Linked DNA regions of Homo sapiens. The protein of the gene in region 1 purifies or fractionates together with the protein of each later gene. This does not show direct contact. Each region holds a gene or a part of one and is shown in the gene's direction. Other genes may lie near its edges.

Region 1 (3,500 bases):
GCCTTTTGAGTTGCTGGGACTACGGGCATGTACCACCACACTCAGCTAAATTTTTAATTTTTTGTAGAGATGGGGTCTCACTATGTTGCCTAGGCTGGTCTCAGATTCCTCAAGCATTCCTCCCACTTGCACCTCCCAAAATGCTGGGATTACAGGTGTGACACCGTGCCAGACTTGAAATTTTTAATCCCACACCTAAAAATATAATTTTATCCACCATTTTTTAAAAGTCATAACATTATTTATTAAAAATTTAGATGGTAAAACTAAAAATTAAAGCTTAATAAAACTACTGAGTGATTTACAAGGAAGAATATTACTGGTCCCTTTTGTGAGCATCCCATTAATTATATATATTCAGGTTATATTGTTACAATATTTGGTTCTACTGTATACTTTTTTTTTTGAGACTGAGTTTCGCTGTTGTTGCCCAGGCTGGAGTGCAATGGTGCAATCTCGGCTCACTGCAACCTCCGCCTCCTGGGTTCAAGTGATTCTCCTGCCTCAGCCTCCTGAGTAGCTGGGATTACAGGCATGCGCCACTATGCCTGGCTAATTTTGTGTTTTTGTAGAGACGGGGTTTCACTATGTTGGTCAGGCTGATCTGGAACTCCCAACCTCAGGAGATCCGCCCACCTCGGCCTCCCAAAGTGCTGGGATTGCAGGTGTGAGCCACCATGCCTGGCTCTACTATATACTTTCATTCAGTTGTTTCTTTTTAATCTAGTGGTTTTGGTATTAATAATTTGATAATGACCTTTAGCTGTTATTGCTTACTTATGAGTTAATATTTATAAAGCACTTAAAGTAGCTGGCACGTAGTAAACACTATGTAAAGATCCATTAAATAACTTTAAAAAATATAAAACTGATAGTGGCATTTTATTATAGAGATTAAGGTAATCCATTCTCTCATTTCCATTTATGGGATGAGACGTAAACACAAGTAGTTTGCTCTCTAAAACTGTATACTAGAATTTTATATACCCATTATTTGATGCAACTTTAATACCAAAGTGTATTGTCAGTTACCGGTGAATATATATAAATTTAGGTAAGGAAAACCCAACTTGGTCGCACACAGTGGCTCACGCCTGTAATCCTACCACTTTGGGAGGCCGAGGCAGTTGGATCACCTGAGGTCTTGAGTTCGAGACCAGCCTGGCCAACGTGGCGAAACCCCGTCTCCACTAAAAATACAAAAATTAGCCGGGCGTGGTGGCACATGCCTGTAATCCCAGCTGCTCGGGAGGCTGAGGAAGGAGAATTGCTTGAACCTGGGGAGGTGGAGGTTGCAGTGAGCTGAGATCGTACCACTGCACTCCAGTCTGTGCGACAGGAGCGAGACTCCATCTCCAAAAAAAAAAAAAAGAAAAACCCAACTTATCTTTTACAGTTTATAATAGTAGAAGTTCAAATAATTGGTTTGGAATTTCTGTATTTTTAAGGTTAGTACTAAAATTGTTGGTTATAAATTGGGGTACAATATACTTTGTTTTTTAAGTACCTTGTGTATCTAATTTAACTTTAAGTCCTTTATTATTTTGGTTTGATAAGACAACTTTTCTACTTATTTCCCCCCTTAACTGAACCAGCTACCATCTGCCTTTTTCCTGTTGTATACATTAGTCTCTTACGTTAAAATATCATATAAGTTTCATATATATACACATATCAAACTATAGACTTAAAGTACAATTACATCAACATCTTTTAAAACCTTAATTTCTGGCCAGGCGTGGTTGTTCATGCCTATAATCCCAGCACTTTGGGAGGCTCAGGCCATTGGATCCCTTGAGCTCAGGAATTCGAGACCAGCCTGGATAACATGGTGAAATCCTCATCTCTACAAAAATTACAAAAAGTTAGCTGGGCGTGGTGGCGCACACCTATAGTCCTAGCTACTTGGGAGGATCTCTTAAGCCTGGGAGGCAGAGGTTGCAGTGAGCCGAGATCATGCCACTGCACTCCAGCCTGGGTAACAGTGAGACCCTGTCTCAAAACAAAAATATTAATTTCTATAACAAATAAATTTTATTTAGTAATATCATGTTTAATACCCATGTTACATTCATTATTCTTCTACACTTTGGCCTTTAGGAAGAGGCAGTGTGTGTGTTACAGTTAAATAGGAAACAAGTAGGGTTCATATAGTGCTTATGGGGTTTTCTTTGGTGGGGGGTTGCTGGGTTTTTGGGGTTTTTTTTTTTGAGACAGGGTATCACTCTGTCTCCCAGGCTGAAATACATTGGCATGCTCATGGCTCACTGCAGCCTCAACCTCCCAGACTCAAGTGATCCTCCCACCTCAGCTTCCCTAGTAGCTGAGACTACAGGCGTGCGCCACCATGCCTAGCTAAATTTTGTACATTTTGTAGAGATGAGGCTTTGCCATGTTGCCCAGGCTGGTCTCTAACTCCTGGGCTCAAGTGATCCACTTGCTTCAGCCTCCCAAAGTTCTGGGATTAACAGGTGCGAGCCACTGCAGCCAGCCTATATTTTAACTATATGTTTTTTTCTTTTTGGCTAAAATTTTTCAGATTAGTTTACAAGTTACAAGTGTAGGTGATATCTCATGGAGATATCAAAGATGATATGAAGTTAGATTGGGTTTTTAAGAGTAGTTTTTAAAATACGGATAAATACCAGTTGTTGGAGTTTTGTTTAAAGTTCTTTAACTTCTTATTTTTGGGCCAAAATACAGGTATACGCTAGAAATGATTTTTAACACAGGTCATTTATGCCAAACTGCATTTTGCCTTAATTTTTTTTTTTTTTTTTTTTTTTGAGAGGGAGTCTCACTCATTGCCCAAGCTGGAGTGCAATGGCACGATCTCGGCTCACTTACAACCTCCACCTCCCAGGTTCAAGCGATTCTCCTGCCTCAGCCTCCTGAGTAGCTGGGATTACAGGCACCTGCCTGGCTAATTTTTGTATTTTTAGTGGAGACGGGGTTTCACCATGTTGGCCAGGCTGGTCTCGAACTGCTGACCTCAGGTGATCCACCCGCCTTGGCCTCCCAAAGTGCGGGGATTACAGGTGTGAGCCACCGTGCTTGGCCAAAATTTTTATTAATTTTTCTATTGCCTGGACTCTGTGAACCTATCCATTTTGCCTTTTAAAAATACTTAGGTGTAAATATAGATATTCATTAACTCAGCATTGTTTTAATCTATATTTCCAAAGGCAATTTAAAAGATCAGAAAATAAGACCAAATTAATATAAAAATGCATACTTTAGGCTGGGCAAAGTGGCTCACGTCTGTAATCCCAGCACTTTGGGAGGCCAAGGTGGGCGGATCACCTGAGGTTAGGAGTTCAGGACCAACCTGGCCATCATGGCGAAACCCTGTCTCTACTAAAAATACAAAAATTAGCTGGGCATGGAGGCATGTGCCTGTAATCCCAGCTACTCGGGAGGCTGAGACAGAAGAATTGCTTGAACCTTGGAGGGGGAGGTTGCATATCTGAGTGGTGAAATTGTGATTCTTTTTTTCTCTT
Region 2 (3,500 bases), on another chromosome or scaffold:
TATAATTCCAGCACTTTTGGGAGGCTGAGGCAGGAGGATTGCTTGACGCCAGGAGTAGAAGACCAAGGTAGACAACATAGCAAAACCCTGTCTCTATTTAAAAAAATAAAAATAAAATAAAATAAGCTTTTTCATAAAGTAATAGGGTTAAATGTTTTAGCAATGATTTTCTTTTCTTTTTTTTGAGACGTAGTTTTGCTCTTTTTGCCCAGGCTGGAGTGCAGTGATGCAATCTCAGCTCACTGCAACCTTGCCTCCCGGGTTCAAGCAATTCTCCTACCTCACCCTCCCAAGTAGCTGGGATTACAGGCACCTGCCACCACGCCGGGCTAATTTTTTGTATTTTTGGTAGAGATGGGGTTTCACCATGTTGGTTAGCTGGTCTTGAACTCCAGATCTCAGGTGATCCACTCACCTCGGCCTCCCAAAGTGGTAGGATTACAGGCATGAGCCACTGCGCCTGGACATTTTTTTTTTTCCTTGAGACAGAGTCTCACTCTTGTTGCCCAGACTGGAGTGCAATGGTGTGATGTTGGCTCATTGCAACCTCTGCCTCCCGGGTTCAAGCGATTCTCCTGCCTCAGCCTCCTGAGTAGCTGGGATTATAGGCACCCACCACCATGCCTGGCTAATTTTTAGTATTTTTAGTAGAGACGGAGTTTCACCACGTTGGCCAGGCTGGTCTTGAACTCCTGACCTCAAGTGATCCACCCACCTTGGCCTCCCAAAGTGTTAGGATTACAAGCATGAGCCACTGTGCCTGGCTACTATTTTCATTTATTTCCTTGCCCAGTACGCAAATTTAGTTGGCTTCTTTTTCCTTTCTTTTCTTTTTTTTTTTTTTTTCTCAGACAGTGTCTCACTTTGTCGCCCAGGCTGGAGTGCAGTGGTGCGAGCTCGGCTCACTGCAACCTCCGCCTCCCAGGTTCAAGTGATTTTCCTGTCTCAGCCTCCTAAGTAGCTGGGACTACAAGCACGCGCCACCACGCCTGGCTAACTTTTGTATTTTTAGTAGAGATGGTGTTTCACCATGTTGCCCAGGCTGGTCCTGACCTCAGGTGATCCACCCGCCTTAGCCTCCTAAAGTGTTCTTTTTCCTTTCTATGTGTTATAGCCATTGGAAAGTTACATTATGTCTTTTCTTTAATTCTGAAGCCTTTAATTTTTAGGACAGACTTGAGGCTCGAAGGTATGTGATGGAGGATAATGGAAGATGATGCCTAGAGATGGGGGTTTAATGTTGTTTGTTCAGCGAATCTGCACAGGAATGAGCTTATTGATTCTTGTCTCTTAGTGTGGGAAGTTCACTTTCACCCATCCAACCCAGAACATCTTTTTACCTGCTCTGAAGATGGATCCCTCTGGCACTGGGATGCTTCCACAGATGTACCTGAAAAGTCGTCACTCTTTCACCAAGGTAAAACTTTTTAATGAATACTGTTATGTGTACTTTTTTTTTTTTTTTTTAAGACAGAGTCTCACTCTATCACCCAGGCTGGAATGCAGTGGCACGATCTCAGCTCACTGCAACCTCCGCCTCCTGGGTTCAAGCGATTCTCGTGCCTCAGCCTCCCGAGTAGCCAGGACTACTAGTCATGCACCACCGTGCCCGGCTAATTTTTTTGTATTTTTAGTGGAGATGGGGTTTCACCATGTTGGCCAGGCTGGTCTCGAACTCCTGACCTCAAATGATCCGCCTGCCTCAGCCTCCCAAAGTGCTGAGATTACAGGAGTGAGCCACCACACCTGGCCTTTTTTTTGAGACAGAGTCTTACTCAGTCACCCAGAATGGAGTGTAGTGGTGCAGTCTCAGCTCACTGCAACCTCTGCCTCTCAGGTTCAAGCTTTTCTTGTGCCTTAGCTTCCCTAGTAGCTGGGATTACAGGTGTGTGCCACCACAACTGGCTAATTTTTTTGTATTTTTAGTAGAGATGGGGTTTTGCTATGTTGGCCAGGCTGGTCTCAAACTCCTGGCCTCAAGTGATCTGACCACCTCAGCCTCCCCAAAGTGCTGGGATTACAGGCATGAGCCACTGTGCCCAGCCTGTTATGTGTAATTTTATCATACTTTTATTTTGTTTTTTTTTTGTTTGAGACAGCGTCTCACTCTGACATGCAGGCTGGACTGCAGTGGCATGATCACAGCTCGCTACATCCTCGCCCTCCTGGGCTTAAGTGGTCCTCCTGCCCCAGCCTCCCAAATAGCTAAGACCAGAGATGCTTGCAACCACAACCAGCTAATTTTTTTTTTTTAATTTTTTTGTAGAGATGAGCTCTCACTATGCTGCCCAGGCTGCTCTCAAACTCCTGAGCTCAAGCAATCTTCCTGCCTGGGCCTCCCGAGGTATTGCAATTATAAGCATGAGCTGGCTGTACCCAGCCATTTTATACTTTTAAATACCAAATTAGACATCCTCGTATTTTTTACTTAATGGCAAAACATTTTTATTCTCTTGCCTCAGAGTAAATTTGAGTATCACAGGGCTTGAAATCTGACTGTCAAGTTACTTACTACTGTATGGCTGATGGCTAGAAATGCTGTAAGCTGGCTCACTTGAGACAGCCAAGGTTCTCCTTTGTGAGTGCCATTAACCTGGACCCTCATGCCATAGCATAGACAGTGGCAAATCTTTCATATTGCATTGCCAAGTTTGTGTGAATGGCAAGAAAAAAGTTGATATTTGATGTAACTGAGGGTACTGGTTAAATGGCCTGATCTCAGGCCGGGTGTGGTGGCTCATGCCTGTAATCCCAGCACTTTGGGAGGCCAAGGCAGGTGGATCACCTGAGTTTGGGAGTTCGAGACCAGCCTGACCAACATGGAGAAACCCCGTCTCTACTAAAAATACAAAATTAGCCGGGTGTGGTGGCTCATGCCTGTAATCCTAGCTATTCAGGAGGCTGAGGCAGGAGAATTGCTTTTACCCAGGAGACAGAGGTTTCAGCGAGCCGAGATTGCACCATTGCACTCCAGCCTGGATAGCAAAAGCGAAACTCCGTCTCAAAAAAAAAAAAAAAGGGCGTGCTTTCCTCATTACAGTCAGTTGTAGGTTATGGTCAGCCAAAGACCATGCACTTGTAATCGGGGTTTATGTGTTTTTGCATTTTCCAAGTTTCCTGTTTTTGAGGGTTTGTCTGTGGCTCCAAAGTTCTTTTGCTTATTCATTTATTCAGAAATATTTACTGAATGCCTACCATGTGGTAGGCATTCTTCTAGGTGTTAGGACGTGTAACAGTGAGCAGAACGAAATGTCGAAACGCATAGAGCAAATATTCTAATAGTTAAAAAAATAGATAATGTATCAGTAAGAGTCCAATTAGAATGTCAGAAACTACCTTAGATGTAGAAGGAATTGGTCTCACATGTGTTAGAAGGGCTGGGAAAACAAAAGGTAATAGGAGGGGTGCTGGGAGAACAAATAGGAAGAAAAGGGAAAACCCAGAAATAGTAATTGTTAGTACCCCTGCTACTTGACTGTTGAAAATGCTGTAAAAGTTTG
Region 3 (3,500 bases), on another chromosome or scaffold:
CTGACCAACATGGTGAAACCGTGTCTCTACTAAAAATACAAAATTAGCTGGGCATGATGGCACATGCCTATAATCCCAGCTACTTGGGAGGCTGAGGCAGGAGAATAGCTTGAACCCAGGAGGTGGAGGGTGCAGTGAGCTGAGATCACACCATTGCACTCCAGCCTGGGCAACAAGAGCAAAACTGCATCTCAAAAAAAAATGTAAATAAAAGAATGGCTACTCCATAGACAGAGTAGCTCCGAGGGCTGCTGGTTGCCCATTTTTATGGTTATTTCTTGATGATATGCTAAACAGGGGTGGATTATTCATGCCCCCACTTTTTAGACTCCTGATGTAACTTCCTGATGTTGCCATGGCATTTGTAAACTGTCATGGCGTTGATGGGAGTGTAGCAGTGAGGACAACTGGAGGTCACCCTTGTCGCCATTTTGGTTTTGGTGGGTTTTGGCTTGCTCCTTTATTGCAACCTGTTTTATCAGCAAGGTCTTTATGACCTGTATTTTGTGCTGACCTCCTATCTCATCCTGTGACTTAGAATGCCTTAACTGTCTGGGAATGCATCCCAGTAGGTTTCAGTCTTGTTTTACCCAACTCCTATTCAAGATGGAGTTGTTCTGGTTCACATGCCTCTGACAGTTTGTCAGTTGATTAATGGAATAGGAAAAAGGGAACAGCATAAGAGGGAAGAGGAATACCTGTGGGAGTTAATGTTTTATGTAGGGTGGTTGGGCAAGAGCCAGGGGTAAGCTGACATTTGAGCAGAAGAAAGGATATCTGGGGAATGAGTATTTCAGGTGGAGCCTTCCAAGAAAAAGGAATAAAAAGTGCAAAGAACCCTGAAACAGGAGCCTGTTGTGTTCAAAGAGTGGAAAGGAGCCAGGAGTCTGCAGCTGAGTGAACAAAGGGTAGAATAATAAGAAAGAGATAGTTGAGGGCCAGATCAGGGCTTTGTTGGTTATTTTAAGCTTTGGCTTTTGCTCTGAGTAAGATGAGAAGAAGCTGTGGAAGGTTAAAGTGGAGGAATGACGTGATCTAAGATCTGGGCTTCTAAAGGATTGCTTTGACTGCTGTCTTGAGAATAGAGCGTGGTGGGGGAAAGGGTAGGTGCAGGGAGACCAGTTAGGAGGCTGGTGCCACAATTCACACATGATGGTGGCTTAGATCAGGGTGGTAGTGACAGAGGCAGTGAGAAATGTTGTGATTGTGGATATGTTTTCAAGGTGAATTTGTTAGAATTACTGTTGCATTGGATGGGGAGTATACAGAAAGAAAAGAGTCACAGGTGAGCCCTAGATTTTTGGCTTGAGCAATTGGAAGTTAGGGAGATGTCATTAATTGCGATGGAAAAACGTATAGGTGAAGCAGGTACTTTTGTTTTCTTCAGGTTCAGTGAGTCCAGGAGTTCTGTTTTGGACAGGTGTAATCTGAGATGCCTGATAGATATCCAAGTGAGTGTTGAGACAGTAGTCAGGAGTTGAGTGGAGAAGTTGGGCTAAAGATACAGATTGTGAAATTGTTGGCATTAGATCGTGCTTAAAGCTGTTCTACTGAATGAGATCACCTAGAAAGTGAGAATAAATTAGGATTTTTCACCTTCTGCACTATTATTGTCAGCTAAGTCTTCATTGTGGAAGGCTGTCCTGTATGCTATAGGGTGTTAAGCAGCATTCCTGGCTTCTACCCTCTGCATAGCAATAGCACATCTATACCGCCACTTCTACCCTAGTTACAATAACCAACAATATCTCTAGATATTGCTTAATATCCTGGTGAATGAGGAAGAATCGCCCCCAGTTGAGAGCCACTTGAGTAGAGCAGTCTGGGACTGAACCCTGGGGCACACCAACATTTAGAAAAATGACGAACCAACAAAGGAGCCCAAGAAGGAGTAACTGAAGTGAGAGTTGAACAAAGAACGTGGCATCCCAGAAGCTAAGGGAAATGTTTCAAGGAGGAGGAGAGTGAAAACCTGTCAGTGTTGCATTTAAGCCAGGCAAGATGAGAAACGAAAATTGGCCTTTGGATCATGGAGGTCATTGATGACCTGGTCAGGAATTGCTGCAGTAGTCGTACAAAAGCCTCAGTGGAGTGGGTTCAAGAGGGAAAGGGAGGAGAGGAATTGTGAGTATAGAATAGCCCTTCCAAGGTGTATTGCTATAAGGGAAGCAGAGAAATCACATGGTAACCAGAGAGCAAGGGAGGAACAGAGAAAATATAATAATATATCTATGTGCAGTTGGGAATGACCTAGTAGATGCAGTTGAGAGCAATCACTAGAGGAAAGGAATTTGGGGAACTGAGAAGGTAGAGTGTTAGGATAATTGGATATTGTTTATTCATTTGTTTGTTTGTTTTTTTTTAGAGTCAGAGTTTCACTCTGTCACCCAGGCTGGAGTAAAATAGCACAGTCATGGCCTACTGCAGCCCGAACTCCTAGGCTCAATCGATCCTCCCATCTCAGCCTCCCAAGTGGCTGAGATTACAGGCGGGCATCACCATGCCTGGCTAATTTTTTTATTTTGTAGAGATAGGGTTTTGCTGTGTTGCCCAGGCTGATCTCGTACTCCTGGGCTGAAGAAATCCTCCTGTCTTGGCCTCCCAAAATGCTGGGATCATAGGCATGAGCTATTGTACCTGGCCCTGATACTGAAATCATTAAGAATTATGGTGAGAGTAGTGTGGGAGAGAGTGACAGTGGGCCAGGAGCTAAAATCAACTGCAGTGAGCATGGGTAGCAGGTGGTATCTGATTCCATGAGCTTCAGAGCTGAGTGATTCGGGTAGCAGAGGAGGAACAGTGGCCTAGAATGCCAGTGGGGAACAAGGACATCTGTATGTTTTCCTTGAGGCCCCACCCCAAAGGGCATGGTAGAGAAAACTCTGGGGTCACTGTCCTCACGGGAGATCCAGGATCCAACTTTAACCGTAAGGCAGGAAAGCGAAGGAATTATTCAGAGATGAGGTTGAGGATCCAGAAAATTGTGCTGATGCCGTGAGTTACCAGAAGCAAAGTAGCTCTGGGAAATCATCAGCGCTGAAAAGGTACTTACATCCTTGGGAGTAGATAAGATGTGCCTTGGGAGAAAGTGTACAGTGAGAGAAGATGGTCCAGGATCAAGGTTTGAGGAAATCTAGCATATAGGGGTCAGGTCAAGGAGAAGGGGAAGAAATGGACAGGAATGTGGGAGGAAAACTGGGAGAGGGTAGTATCATAGGATTCATGAGAAGAGACTGTTTAAAAAGGAAGGCAAGGTCACATATGTGGAATGCTGCTAAGAGATCAAGTAAGAGGGCCAGGCATGGTGGCTAACACCTGTAATCATGTGGAATGCTGCTAAGAGTCAAGTAAGAGGGCCAGGTGTGGTGGCTCACACCTGTAATCCCAGCACTTTGGGAGGCCGAGGCAGGTAGCACTTTGGGAGGCTTGAGGCCAGGAGTTCAAGATCAGCCTGGCCAACATGGTGAAACCCCGTCTCTACTAAAAAATACAAAAATTAG
Region 4 (3,500 bases), on another chromosome or scaffold:
CAGCCTGCCAGGTACTGGACAGATACAGATGCATGCGGCACCCGGTGCAAAGGTGCCGAACAGCAGATGCATCCTAAAGTCTTGAATGTCTGTCGTTTGTTTGACAAACAAGTCAATGCCGTGAGTTGTTCCAGAATGCGTGGCATTTTGTTTTGTCATAGCACAAGGTGCTGATAACCACATGCTGGCGTGCGTGGGAAAACATTTTGTCTCTCTGCATATGTTATGTGTTAGAACTAGGATCACACTAACTCACGTATCCAGTTGCTTTGTTTGTTTTTCATAATAATGGTCATCCCTCAAAAATTTTGTTCTTCATCTAAATACTGTTATAGCACTTAATAAAGATTAATAGAAAAATGGGACATTGGCCAGGCGCGGTGGCTCATGCCTGTAATCCCAGCACTTTGAGAGGCCAAGGCAGGTGGATCACGAGGTCAGGAGATTGAGACCGTCCTGGCCAACATGGTGAAACCCTGTCTCTACTAAAAATACAAAAATTAGCTGGGCATGGTGGCATGTGCCAGTAATCCTAGCTACTTGGGAGACTGAGGCAGGAGAATCGCTTGAACCTGGGAGGCAGAGGTTGCAGTGAGTCAAGATCGTGCCACTGCACTCCCGCCTGGTGACAGAGCAAGACTCTGTCTCAAAAAAAAAAAAAAAAAAGAAAGAGAAAAAAAGAAAGAAAAAAAAAGAAAAATGAGACATTAACCTGAATGTTGAAATGCTGATAAGACCCAGTCTTTTTCAAACACCTGTAGACACAAATACAGACTGAAAACAATCCTCCCTCTTTCTAATTTATAGAGTCAATGCCATTATATTTTGGGACTGGGAAAATAACAATTTGTAGTGTCTAAACGTAGATGTTTTACTGTCGTGTTTCAGATTGTGGTGCTTTAAAATTATGTCCTCACATCAGGTCATATCCCTTCATTTTACTGTTATATGAGCCAAACCGCAAAAGCTAAAAATAATGGCAGTGCCGGGATAAAGCTGGTACACCCACAGCAGGGCCCTCCCGGAGAAGTGGGTTTCCCTGCCCTCCTGGTTACTGCACGAGGTCCACGGAGGACTCTGAGGCTCAGGTGGCTTTTTTGTCACTGGCCTCATTATACACCTGGAATATGGAAGCTGGCTACTCTTTGGCCTGGGATAGCCTGTGCATTGGGGATTCACTAGAATCAAGGCAGAATATCTCCTTTACTAGATCTGACAATTGGATCGGTCAGGGACAGAAGATATAGTGCATTACAAACCCCTAGAGATTCATATTGACCGTGAAGACTTCAGGCTTTCCTTCTCTTCTAGCTGGAAGTTGGAGGGAGCTATTTATTTATTTACTGATTTATGTATTCATTCATTTATTTTTGAGACAGAGTCTTGCTCTGTCGCCCAGGCTTCATCACTGCACACTGCAGCCTCTACCTCACAGGCTCAAGCGATCCTCCCACCTCAGCCTCCTGAGTAGCTGGGATCACAGGTGCACACCACCAAGCCTGGCTAATTTTTATATTTTTTGTAGAGATGGGGTTTCACGATGTTGCCCAGGCTAGTCTCCAACTCCTAAATTCAAGTGATCCTCTTGCCTTGGCCTTCCATAGATATGAGCCACCAGACCTGGCCAGTTGGAGGGATTTATAATCACCTGAAATTTTCTTTACTCCTCTGGTTACTGGAAATTGCAGATTTAAGTACCTTTTAGAAAACTGGTAGGAACCTATGAGAGTAAATGCTAAGCTGAAGCAGTGACTCTTTAAAAATTAAGCCATTTGTCTTTAGCAAGTAAAAATCAAGACCTTCTGTTATGTTGTTGACAGAGGACTATATCGTTTCCTAATTATTTAAAATGAAAGACCACCTTCTGAACCATATCTTTAGATAAGGTCTAAATACACCGTAGGTAATACTTTGTGACTCCCTTTCATTCTACTTATTACGATACTAACAATGCCGCCTCTCTGTCTAAGATAAGGTATAGCCAAGCTGACTTCAATGTCTTAAACAGGAAATTCGTTTTGTAGAAATAATTCGGAGCTCAAAGTCTGCTCTTTGTAGAAGTGATGATGCTAAGTGTCCTGTGCCGACTCTGCTTGTTGAGTAGCTGAACAGCTGCCTGCCTCTGTCCTAGACGTGCTTAGGGAAAAAGAAGCCCTTTGCAAAATGATGTGACACTTGGCAGAAAGTTAACGTAGAAACTTAGCGGTGTGCTTTTGTTTGTTGGTATATGTGTTGCTGACATTTTATTTTTTTCAGATTGCAGGCCTCTGCTCACCAAAAGGCCTTAGCCAAGGACCAGACAAATGAGGGCAAAGAGCTTGCTGAGCAAGGAGAACCTGATTCCTCCACTCTAAGCTTGGCCGAAAAGTTGGCCTTGTTTAACAAATTGTCCCAGCCAGTCTCAAAAGCGATTTCTACCCGGAACAGAATAGACACGAGACAGAGGAGAATGAACGCTCGCTATCAAACTCAGCCAGTCACACTGGGAGAGGTGGAGCAGGTGGGTGTGCTATAGTCCGATTGCAGTTTGTGTGTGTGTGTTCTTAAATTATAGCACTGCAGTATTCCTCTGAGGTCAATGATGTAATTAAGGTGCTCTACCAGGAAACTGCTACCTGTAGGTGATTTGGTAATAGCTTTCTTCCTAAAAATGAGAATTCTACCAAGTATGTTGCTCTTTTTTTGTTTTCATACCTTGCTTGCTGAAATATCTAGAATGAGTCCATTTTGGAGAGAAAAAAATAGTATGCCCAACTGTGTTTCACCCAGAGGATTTTGTTTAATGAGACGTATTATATAACTATGTCCAGGAATGGTTTTCCACTAAGAGAAACAGTGAAACTGCATCAAATCGAGTATTTCAGCTTCTGTCAATTCATAAACCAGGATTTATATAGATGATATTTTTCAAGCAGCTTTTTAATTTTTAACTGTGTCCTTCCAGGTGCAGAGTGGAAAGCTCATTCCTTTCTCACCTGCCGTGAACACATCAGTGTCTACCGTAGCATCCACGGTTGCTCCAATGTATGCCGGAGATCTTCGCACAAAGCCACCTCTTGACCACAATGCAAGTGCCACTGACTATAAGTTTTCTTCTTCAATAGAAAATTCGGACTCTCCAGTTAGAAGCATTCTGAAATCGCAAGCTTGGCAGCCTTTGGTAGAGGGTAGCGAGAACAAGGGAATGTTGAGAGAATATGGAGAGACAGAAAGCAAGAGAGCTTTGACAGGTCGAGACAGTGGGATGGAGAAGTATGGGTCCTTTGAGGAAGCAGAAGCATCCTACCCCATCCTGAACCGAGCCAGGGAAGGAGACAGCCATAAGGAATCTAAATATGCTGTTCCCAGAAGAGGAAGCCTGGAACGGGCGAACCCTCCCATCACCCACCTCGGGGATGAACCGAAGGAATTTTCCATGGCTAAAATGAATGCACAAGGAAACTTGGACTTGAGGGACAGGCTGCCCTTTGAAGAGAAGGTGGAGGTGGAGAATGTTATGA
Region 5 (3,500 bases), on another chromosome or scaffold:
GGAAAATTCAGAGGCTACCATCAATTATTTAAGAAGTGTATGCTAAATAGTACAAATGAGGAATACTGTTGTAATTATGAGAAAACCGTTGCACAGAAACGTGTCACCTAATGCTGGGAGGGGGCACCTTTGCTATGTCGAAATTAATTAAATGCTAACTAAAATAGTTACGTGTGCCTAATAGGCATCCGAAAGTCAGAACGGGGGAAAAAGGCTGACAGCTCAGACCTCCTTTTCTCAAGGCAGGAAGGAGGCTTTGGTGAGACTGGAAGGAAAGGTTTGGAATCCTAGATGATGTCAATAAACCAGACTCTTTGATCCCAAGTGGAATTCAGGGAATAGACATGAAGACTAGGCCATTTCCCCCTCCCCAAACTTCAAGCTTATCTATAGGAACTTGGAGACTTTGGTGTGGGGGATGGTGGAGAAGAAAAATTCCAGACTGATTCTTCTGACTTCTCTCATTTTAAATACGTAAAATCTTTAAAACGTTTGCTTGCCATTTTATCTTACATGCAATAATAACCCTTAGTCTAGGTTGAGCATCCCTAATTTGAAAATCCTAAATCCTCCAGAATCTAAAACTTCCTTAGTTACCAACACGATGTGACAAGTGGATCATTTCACCCCGACCTCATGTGATGGGCCACGGTCAACATGCAGGTGCACAACAGTTTATTCAGTGTCCCCAAGGGGAAAGTAAAATTACCTTCAGGCTGTGTGTATAAGGTCTATATGAAACATGTGAATTCCCCGTTTAGATTTGGATCCCATCCGCAAGATACCTCAAATATTCCAAAATATGAAACAGTCTGAAATTCAAAAGACTTCTGGACCCAAGCATTTCAGATAAAGGATACTCAATTTGTGTTCAGTGCTTGGTATGAGCCAAAGACTGTGCCGAGCTTGCTTTGTGACTCCCTAGCTGCTTGCCCTCAGCTTTCTGCTGCTTGGAGATACCTCAAATGGGACAGAAGGCTGTCTAATGCAGTCCTGGTTGAGGATGGACTTTGACACACAGCATGGGAATATATTACATCAATCATAAAGTAGAGACTACTGAAATGAGAGGGTCTCCTATTTGATGTGTTGATGAAAGGCTACTTGGGCATCTGTGTAGAGTAGGTCCTACCAACAAGGGACTCAAAACACACAAAGGGAAGAAGGGTTAGGAATGCTGAAGACACATACTGAAATTGGCTCTTCAGTAGTGCCTTTGTTACATGTTCTATATATAGGGGACTTTGCCCTATACAGGGTATGTGTGTTGGGGGTGGGGGCGGCGGGGGGCGGGGTGGGTGTTTAATGTCTGCAGTTTAGCTGGGGCTTTACAGGTGAAACGTACTGTATGTGTTCTCTCGACATTATGAAGATTTTGTTTGTTTTGGTCACTGGTATTTTTATAATGGAGCTCTGCCTTACTACTCTACTTGTTTTACTGCATTTTCAGGATTTTTATTTAGGCCAATATTTGGCTGTCTGTGTTCTGTGATATGTAAGGTATGGGAATAGGAGGGAAGATCTGTGAATAAACGTAGGAAATGCCAGGTGGCATATTGAAGGGCCTTTAAAATCTTAATTTGTTTTGCTGCTGTTACAGGGAGATATATCTTATAGGGTATGTATATATGTATACATACCTACATTCATATATATTAAAAGGTCCACTCCTAATTTAATAAGAAATTACCTTTGAAGGAAGAAAACTCCCCTACCATATTAACATGTTTTGTAGAACACATACTGATTTTAAAATCATCGAATGTGGAAAATTAGGTCTTTACAGTAGAGATTTGATATGGAGTGAATTGATGTGTTCATTTTTTTCTCTTGGAACGAGCACCTGGAAATATTCGTGGTTCTTTGTAGCACAGTGTGGGAAGTGCCATAGAGGCCAGGATCCTAATGAGTATGGTTATAAGTTTAGTGTCTAGAAATAATTTTTGCTTCACCCTAGTCCTTGTTTAAATCCTAAATACTATCAGAGGAATTATATTAAAAAAATTTTAAAGCATATGGGAGACAACACAATCAAAGCCTGTGTCATTTACATGTTATTGGTGGTGTCATGTTGAGATCACTTTTTATTTTTTTAAATAATAATTTTTTTTTTAAGTTTCAGGGTACCACAGGTTCGTTACATAGGTAAACGTGTGCCATGGTGGTTTGCTGCACCGATCAACCCATCACCTAGGTATTAAGCCCTGCATACATTAGCTGTTTTCCCTGGTGTTGGTCCCCACACCTTCCCTGACAGGCCCCAGTGAGTGTTGTGCCCTTCCCGGTGTCCATGGAGAACACTTTTTAAACCTGTAAAATAATGGTTTAACTACAAAGTTGTTTCACATTTTTTCTTTAAAAATCTAAAACTTCCTGGGTTTTAAAAGCATCTCAATACTTCTCTTGAAGGCACTCTTAGATTTGTACTTGATTCATTAGATTGGTTCTCTTGCATTTCCAATTCATGGTTTCCAGAGGGTGAACGCTGTTCTCAGGATGTCTTGCGTTAGAGGAGTTTAGGAAGCATCACCAGGTCTGTTCTCCAGTGTCCCCTTCTGAGTAGGGGCCACATCGCTCATTTCCCAGACTTGTGGACCAGGTTACCTTTCTTTTTTCTTGGGTGACCTCCTGAGGTTAGGGTTCTGTGCAGAATACTTGCTGTTCCAGTTCATCTTATCTTTTCTAACTCTTCATGAGCATTCAGGAGATAGCTTTAACTTGATCCTCTCTTCTAGTCTTTTTTGCTTTGTGGTTTCTCAGTTTTTTCAGGTTAAGCAATTCTCAGCAACTTCAGCTGAGAGCCTTGCAGTCCTGCTAATAGCCTTCAGGGCTTTTGCATTTGACTAACCTGGCCTTTCTTCCAACTTGGCTTGCCCCAAACTGATCTCTTTTTTGCTCCCTAGACCATATCCGACATCTCTATTTCTAGCGTTGTGTCAGAGACACAGATTTCAGACTTGACTTCTTTTGTTTGTCCATATTCAGTGATCTACCAAATCTTACTAGTTCCTCCCCCATAACACTATGTGTTTATACCTTCCTCTTTGGCCCCGCTGTCACCAGCTTCATTCTGCCCTCACGCCTGGCGATGCAGTGCGCTGCTGATTGCTGCTTCATTCAGGACTTGCCTGGCTTCCTTGATTACAGAGGCTCTCCAGGGCAGGTATTGGGCTGCTAGCATTTGATAGAGTGGGCTCTGCTCTTTGTCTTTGCAGCCCTTTGCCACAACCATCCTATCTCATCTTCATAAGCTTAAAAAAATCCTGAAAATCTAGCTGTGTGTATCATGCTAACATGCTTTTTAAAAAAACTGGCTCTGCTGCAATTTTCACTTGAAAGTAGCTGGATGTTGGTTCTGGGTATTTGTCTCTATCTCAGCTCTTCAAACTGGGAATGTGATTTCTAGTAACAACATTTAGCAAAATTTCAACAAAGCAACCAATTTGCGGAAGTTGTGTTAACTTTGAGGTTTTGCCATAATAAATTATAAATGTTGGAAT
Region 6 (3,500 bases), on another chromosome or scaffold:
AGGAGTTTGAGACCAGCCTGGGCAACATGGTGAAACCCCATCTGTACTTAAAAAAAAATATGAAAAATTAGCTGGGCGTGGCAGCATGCGCCCATTGCCCCAGCTACTCGGGAGGCTGAGGGAGGAGAATTGCTTGAACTCGGGAGGCGGAGGTTGCAGTGAGCCAAGATTGTGCCACTGCACTCCAGCCTGGGCGACAGCGAGACTCTGACTCAAGAAAAAAAGAAAAGAAACAAAACAAAACAGTATGTATTAGAGGCAAGGTAGGTAAACATTTCCTGAGAACTTGGTGCATTCTTTTTGTTTGAAATTGACCGTAAGTATTTGGCACAGTATGGCTCTAGAGAAAGGTTTCTCAGCTTTGGAACTTTGAGACTTTGGGCCAGATAATTATCGTGGGGGCTCTGTTGTATATTGTAGGATATTTAGCAACATTCCTACCTCTACCCATTAGATACCCATAACACATCCTCTGCAGGTTGTAACGATCAGGAATGTCTGAAGAAATTGTCAGAATTGCCCTTGATTGAGACTACTACTTTAGTGAAAATATTTCACATGTATTTATTTATTTATTTATTTTTTGAGACAGAGTTTCGCTCTTGTTGCCCCGGCTGGAGTGCAATGATGTGATCTTGGCTCACCGCAACCTCCGCCTCGTGGGTTCAAGCAATTCTCTTGCCTCAGCCTCCCGAGTAGCTGGATTACAGGTGCGTGCCACCACACCCAGCTAATTTTGTATTTTTAGTAGAGACAGGCTTTCACCATGTTGGCCAGGCTGATCTGGAACTCGTGACCTCAAGCAATCCACCCGCTTTGGCCTCCCAAAGTGCTGGGATTACAGGCGTGAGCCACCATGCCCAGCCATAATTACCACATTGAGGAATTTGTACTTAATTCAGTGTAATGGGAAATACTTGCAGTTTTTTTTAGTAAGGAAAGAAAAATTCTTAAAAATATAGTGGTAGCTGGCCGGGTGTGGTGGCTCACACCTGTAATCCAGCACTTTGGGAGGCTGAAGCGGGTGGATCACAAGGTTAGGAGTTTGAGACCATCCTGGCTAATATGGTGAAACCCTGAATCTACTAAAAATAGAAAAATTAGTTGGGCACAGTGACACGCACCTGTAGTCCCAGCTACTGGGAGGCTGAGGCAGAGAATCGCTTGAACCCAGGAGGCAGAGGTTGCAGTGAGCGCAGATTGCACCACTGTGCTTCATCCTGGGTGACAGAGCAAGACTCCATATCATAAAAAGAAGACCTCTAAATGTACCAGTCTTTGCATTCTGACATATATTATGTTGTTTTGTTTGAAGTATGTGAAGAAAATCTAGCCTCATACAGATACATAGTTGGAAAAGAGAGGAGTATTTTAATGGCCTTTTCAGATAATTCTAACTGCTCTTTGACACTACAGTCAAACCTTTTTATTTGTTTGTTTTTTTGAGACGGAGTCGTGCTCTGTCGCCCAAGTCGGAGTGCAGTGGCGCTATCTCAGCGTACTCCAACCTCCGCCTCCCAGGTTCAAGCAATTCTCCTGCCTCAGCCTCCTGAGTTGCTGGGACTACAGGTGCACATCACCACGCTGGGCTAATTTTTTGTATTTTTAGTAGAGACGGGGTTTCGCCATGTTGGGTTTGAACTCCTGGCCTCAAGTGATCCGCCTGCCTTGGCCTCCCAAAGTGCTGGGATTTCAGACGTGAGCCACCGTGCCCGGCCTCAAACCTTTTTAAAGGTTCATTACAGTATGGAATCTGAAACTGTGTCATTGAACTTTTGTATTCTGTTGTATTAAAAACCATTGGTCTGTGTTGTACTTTGAATAGACCTTTACACTTCTGTGATTTTATAACATGATGCATGTTGATTTTGAAATTATTGATTTACTGAGTTATGCAGATCTTCTTTTTTTGTTGTTTTTTTGTTTGTTTGTTTCTTTGTTTTTGAGACAGAGTCTTGCTTTGTCACCCAGGCTGGAGTGTTGTGGCACAATCTTGGCTCACTGTAACCTCTGCATTCCGGGTTCAGGTGATTCTCATGCCTCAGCCTCCTGAGTAGCTGGGACTACAGGTGTGTACCACCACATCTGGCTAATTTTTGTATTTTTTGTAGAGACGGGGTTTCAACATGTTGACCATGGCTGGTCTGGAACTCCTGACATCAAGTGATCTTCCCGTCTCGGCCTCCTAAAGAGCTGGCATTACAGGCATGAGCCCCATAGGCCTGGCCCAGATATTCCAGATGTTGACAAATTTAATTATACAGTTGTTTCTGTTTCCACCCATCTCATCAGATAAGTCTTTTTAAGAATTGAGAAGCTTATGACCTGATAGTGGTGAATACATGTTTTTTTTTTTTTTTTTTTTTTTTTTTTTTTGAGATGGAGTTTCACTCTGTCACCTGGGCTGGAGTGCAGTGGCACGATCTCGGCTTATTGCAAGCTCCACTTCCCGGGTTCACGCCATTCTCCTGCCTCATCCTCCCGAGTAGCTGGGAATACAGGGGCGTGCCACCATGCCCGGCTAATTTTTTGTATTTTTAGTAGAGATGGGGTTTCACCGTGTTAGCCAGGAAGGTCTCGATCTCCTGACCTCGTGATCCGCTCACCTCCGCCTCCCAAAGTCCTGGGATTACAGGCATGAGCCGCTGCGCCCAGCCGAATGCATGTTTTTGTAGTTGTAATTTTTGTATCAAAATTTTTTTTTTTTTTTTTTTAGATGTAGTCTCACTCTGTCGCCTAGGCTGGAGTGCAGTGTCGTGATCTCGGCTCACTGTAACCTCGCCTCCTGGGTTCAAGCAATTCTCCTGCCTCAGCCTCCTGAGTAGCTGGGATTACAGGCAGGTGCCACCACACATGGCTAATTTTTGTATTTTTAGCAGAGACAGGGTTTCATCATGTTGGTCAGGCTGGTCTTCAACTCCTGACCTCGTGATCTGTCTGCCTCGGTCTCCCGAAATGCTGGGATTATAGGCATGAGCCACCATGCCCAGCCTTTCTTTTTTTTTTTTTTTTTTTTTTTTTGAGACGAGGTCTCGGTCTTTCCCCCAGGCTGGAGTACAATGGTGGGATCTCAACTCACTGCAACCTCCGCCTTCTGGGTTCCACTGATTCTCCTGTCTCCGCCTCCCAAGTAGCTGGGATTACAGGCGTCCACCACCATGCCTGGCTAATTTTTTGTATTTTTAGTAGAGATGAGGTTTCACCATGTTGGCCAGGCTGGTTTTGAACTGCTGACTTCAAGTGATCCACCTGCCTCGGCCTCCCAAACTGCTAGGATTACAGGTGTGAGCCACCATGCCCAGCCAGTACCAAATCTTAATAACCATAGTTTGTCAATCATTCTTTGAAATTAAAATGGTGGGCGGGGCGCAGTGGCTCACGCCTGTAATCCCAGCACTTTGGGAGGCTGAGGGGGGCGGATCACAAGGTCAGGAGATCGAGACCATCCTGGCTAACACGGTGAAAACCCGTCTCTACTAAAAATACAAAAAATTAGCTGG
Region 7 (3,500 bases), on another chromosome or scaffold:
CAGTGGCACCATCTCGGCTTACTGCAGCCTCCGCCTCCCAGGTTCAAGCGGTTCTCCTGCCTCAGCCTCCCGAGTAGCTGGGATTAAAGGTGCTGGCTAATTGTCTGTATTTTTAGTAGAGATGGGGTTTTGCTATGTTGGCCAGGCTGATCTTTAACGCCTGACCTCATGATCCACCCCCCTCAGTCTCCCAAAGAGCTGGGATTACAGGCGTGAACCACGACACCCGGCCTGGACCTGTCTTTTTTTTTTTTTTTAAGTTTAAAAATTAATAAATAACTTTTAAAAGTTAAAAAAAGAATAAATAATAAAAATCATAAGGAAGAGAAACTACGTTTATAGTACTATACTGTACCTGTTAATACTGTAAGTTTATGTTGTCTGTTTACAAGATGAATTGTCTATTTGAAATGGACAACCACAGTTACAGACCTCAATCTACAGTATATCAAGCAATTCACCTTTTTCTTGTAATCTCATGACTTTTCTCTGCTTCTTGGGAGAACTTCCAGTATCACTACTGGCACTTTGTATGGCTCCTGTGGTGTTATTAAGGGTTTATAGTATTGCACTAAAAAAAACAAGACCTGGGAAAGCTTACTTTTTATTGCAGTATGCAACTGAAGAGACCAACAGCTCTTCAGAGATGATTAGCATCACACGGCATTTTAAATGGATACTCACAGCACTTGAGCTCACCCCAGTAGTGGCAGGAAGTGGCTCTAAAGTTATTACAGTAGTATAGTATCTACTACAGTTAGTTGTATGCAGTTATGATTTAATACTGCATCTGTATGCTTGTTTACATTTCTCTAGACCACAATGTATGGTCTGTAAATGTGTGTACGTTTTGATAAATTTTAACTTTTTATAATAGATTCATATATATTTTATAGTAGTAAGTGATAAAATAGACCAGAATCTACATATAATGGATTTATGACATACCTTTTTTTTTATTTTTTATTTTTTTTTTTGAGATGGAGTCTCACTTTGATGCCCGGGCTGGAGTGTAGTGGCATGATCTTGGCTCACTGCCACTGCAGCCTCTGCCTCACCGGGGTCAAGCGATTCTCTGGCCTCAGCCTCCCAAGTAGCTGGTATTACAGGTGTGCACCACCACGCCTGGCTAATTTTGTATTTTTAGTAGAGACGGGGTTTCACCACGTTGGCCAGGCTGGTCTCAAATTCCTGACCTCAGGTGATCCAGCAGCCTCGGCCTTCCAAAGTGCTAGGATTACAGGTGTGAGCCACTGGCCTACCTAGCTTTTTCTTAATTTACTCAGTATTTCTAGGCTATTAATTTGTTTGTGAGTCTTTTTTTTTTTTTTGAGACGGAGTCTCACTCTCTCGCCCAGGCTGGAGTGCAATGGCGCAATCTCAGCTCACTGTACTGTACCCTCTGCCTCTTGGGTTCAAGCATGAATATTTTTCAAATTGTCACAAATCTCCAAAAAATGTTCTAATATATATATATTTAAATTAATGTATTTATTTATTTAGAGATAGGATGTTGTTCTGTCACTCAGGCTAGAGTTCACTGGCTAGATCATAGCCCATTGTAACCTCAGACTCCTGGGCTCAAACAGTCTTCTCCCCTCAACCTCCCAAGTAGCTGGTACTATAGACACGTGCCACCATGGCCAGCAAACTTATTTTTTATTTTTTTGTAGAGACTGGGTCTCACTATGTTGGCCAGGCTAATCTCAAACTCCTGCCCTCAGGGGTGATACTACCTTTTTTTTTTTTTTTTTTTTTGAGAGAGTCTCACTGTCACCCAGGCCGGAATGTGGAGTGTGGTGGAATGATCTCAGCTCACTGCAACCCACCTCCCAAGTTCAAGTGATTCTCCTGCCTCAGCCTCCCAAGTAGCTGAGATTACAGGCATGCGCCACCACGCCTGGCTAATTTTTGTATTTTTAGTAGAGACAGGGTTTTGTCTTGTTGGCCAGGCTGGTCTTGAACTCCTGGCCTTAGGTGATCCGCCTGCCTCAGCCTCCCAGAGTGCTGGGATTATAGGCAAGAGCTACCAGGCCTGGTCTCAAGTGATACTTCTGCCTCAGCCTCCCAAAGTACTGGAATTACAGGCGCAAGCCACCATACCCAGCCAATTTTCCAATATATTTATCGAAAAAAATCCACGGTTCAAACCTGTGCAGTTTAAGAGCCAACTGTACTCACTTTTTGGAATTTAAAATTATTCTGGGCTGGACACAGGGGCCCATGCCTGTAATCCCAGCACTTTAGGAGGCCAAGGTGGGCAGATCACTTGAGCCCAGGAGTTTGAGACCAGCCTGGGCAGCATAGTGAAAAGCCATCTCTACTAAAAAAAAATACAAAAAATTAGCAGGGCATAGTGGCATGTGCCTGTAGTCCCACCTACCCGGGAGGTTGAGGTGGGAGGATCACCTGAGCCCAGGAGACAGGTTGCAGTGAGCCATGATCATGCCACTGTACCCTAACCTGGGTGACAGAGTGAGACCCTGTCTCAAACAAATAAATATAAAATAAAATTATTCTGTTTAGCAACACAAATCCACATCTGTATGAACCTCTCCTGAATACATTTGAAATTTTGAAGTATACTTTTAATTTTATTATTGACATACTTTGATCTTTTTCTATTTTTTAGCTTTTAATAAGAGAGAAACATACAAATCTTATAGCATTTTATACCTGTCATTTGCCTCAAGACCTAGCTGTTGCCCAGTATGCATTATTTTTGGAAAGTGTTACAGAATTTGAACAGCGCCACCATTGCCTGGAGTTGGCTAAAGAAGCAGGTAAAAATGGTTGAAAACTTTGTCTTTTGGCCTTTCTAGGCAAATGTTCATTTTGGCTGTAGTAACATTTGTCCTTATAGTTTTAAATCTTATTTCTGTTGAGGGGAAAAGAGGAATAAAATTTTCAGGGAATTTCTGTTTTAGGACTAAAGTTACTTATGCTGTAACTCATATGTAAAATATCTTTTAATTCTGGCATTTTCTTTTATATAAATATCTTTCATATTTTACATATTTTATTTTTAAGGAATTACTGTTCCAAATTTACTGAATCATTATGACTATTTAGAGAATATTAGTATCAATGATTAATCTTTGTTTTTTGTCGCTTCAAAAAATTATTTAGATTTGGATGTTGCAACAATAACAAAAACTGTAGTTGAGAATATTCGAAAGAAAGATAATGGTGAATTTAGTCATCATGACCTGGCCCCAGCCCTAGATACTGGCACTACTGAGGTAATTTGGGATGGGGGGGCAGAGGTTTCTATAACTTCTAATAATCTTTTATGTTATTCCTTGGTGAACTTCTCCCTTCGTAAAAGAAGTTCTATTAGGTTTTCTTTTTTAAGAATGTGTCTTTGTCAGCCCAGACCTTTTAAATTTAAAGTCTTATGTAAAGGATTACTTATAGTAGTATGTTAAAGGAGCTTCTTTAATAGAAAAAAATCTCAGCTTTGGCTTGTTGCTCATCAGGTTATTTTAAATACTTGATTA

What was found.
Region 2: the proteins of SPAST (region 1) and NUP43 purify together in Homo sapiens (affinity purification with mass spectrometry; 4 studies listed by BioGRID and IntAct, with this or other methods). This does not show direct contact.
Region 3: the proteins of SPAST (region 1) and NUP160 purify together in Homo sapiens (affinity purification with mass spectrometry; 3 studies listed by BioGRID and IntAct, with this or other methods). This does not show direct contact.
Region 4: the proteins of SPAST (region 1) and SVIL purify together in Homo sapiens (affinity purification with mass spectrometry; one large-scale study listed by BioGRID and IntAct). This does not show direct contact.
Region 5: the proteins of SPAST (region 1) and CUL1 purify together in Homo sapiens (affinity purification with western blotting; one study listed by BioGRID and IntAct). This does not show direct contact.
Region 6: the proteins of SPAST (region 1) and NUP98 purify together in Homo sapiens (affinity purification with mass spectrometry; 4 studies listed by BioGRID and IntAct, with this or other methods). This does not show direct contact.
Region 7: the proteins of SPAST (region 1) and NUP107 purify together in Homo sapiens (affinity purification with mass spectrometry; 4 studies listed by BioGRID and IntAct, with this or other methods). This does not show direct contact.

Annotation. Positions count from the first base shown.
Region 1 is NC_000002.12:32,150,556-32,154,055, forward strand, and holds part of SPAST (spastin), read left to right. Parts: intron 1-3,500. UniProt on the Homo sapiens protein: ATP-dependent microtubule severing protein that specifically recognizes and cuts microtubules that are polyglutamylated.
Region 2 is NC_000006.12:149,729,530-149,733,029, reverse strand, and holds part of NUP43 (nucleoporin Nup43), read left to right. Parts: intron 1-1,294; coding exon 1,295-1,417; intron 1,418-2,266; coding exon of another isoform or gene 2,267-2,397; exon of another isoform or gene 2,398-3,500. UniProt on the Homo sapiens protein: Component of the Nup107-160 subcomplex of the nuclear pore complex (NPC). The Nup107-160 subcomplex is required for the assembly of a functional NPC.
Region 3 is NC_000011.10:47,841,851-47,845,350, reverse strand, and holds part of NUP160 (nuclear pore complex protein Nup160), read left to right. Parts: intron 1-3,500. UniProt on the Homo sapiens protein: Functions as a component of the nuclear pore complex (NPC). Involved in poly(A)+ RNA transport.
Region 4 is NC_000010.11:29,523,472-29,526,971, reverse strand, and holds part of SVIL (supervillin), read left to right. Parts: coding exon 1-11; intron 12-2,256; coding exon 2,257-2,500; intron 2,501-2,944; coding exon 2,945-3,500.
Region 5 is NC_000007.14:148,705,403-148,708,902, forward strand, and holds part of CUL1 (cullin-1), read left to right. Parts: intron 1-3,500. UniProt on the Homo sapiens protein: Core component of multiple cullin-RING-based SCF (SKP1-CUL1-F-box protein) E3 ubiquitin-protein ligase complexes, which mediate the ubiquitination of proteins involved in cell cycle progression, signal transduction and transcription.
Region 6 is NC_000011.10:3,791,055-3,794,554, reverse strand, and holds part of NUP98 (nuclear pore complex protein Nup98-Nup96 isoform 1 precursor), read left to right. Parts: intron 1-3,500. UniProt on the Homo sapiens protein: Plays a role in the nuclear pore complex (NPC) assembly and/or maintenance. NUP98 and NUP96 are involved in the bidirectional transport across the NPC. May anchor NUP153 and TPR to the NPC.
Region 7 is NC_000012.12:68,728,478-68,731,977, forward strand, and holds part of NUP107 (nuclear pore complex protein Nup107), read left to right. Parts: intron 1-2,632; coding exon 2,633-2,783; intron 2,784-3,129; coding exon 3,130-3,242; intron 3,243-3,500. UniProt on the Homo sapiens protein: Plays a role in the nuclear pore complex (NPC) assembly and/or maintenance. Required for the assembly of peripheral proteins into the NPC. May anchor NUP62 to the NPC. Involved in nephrogenesis.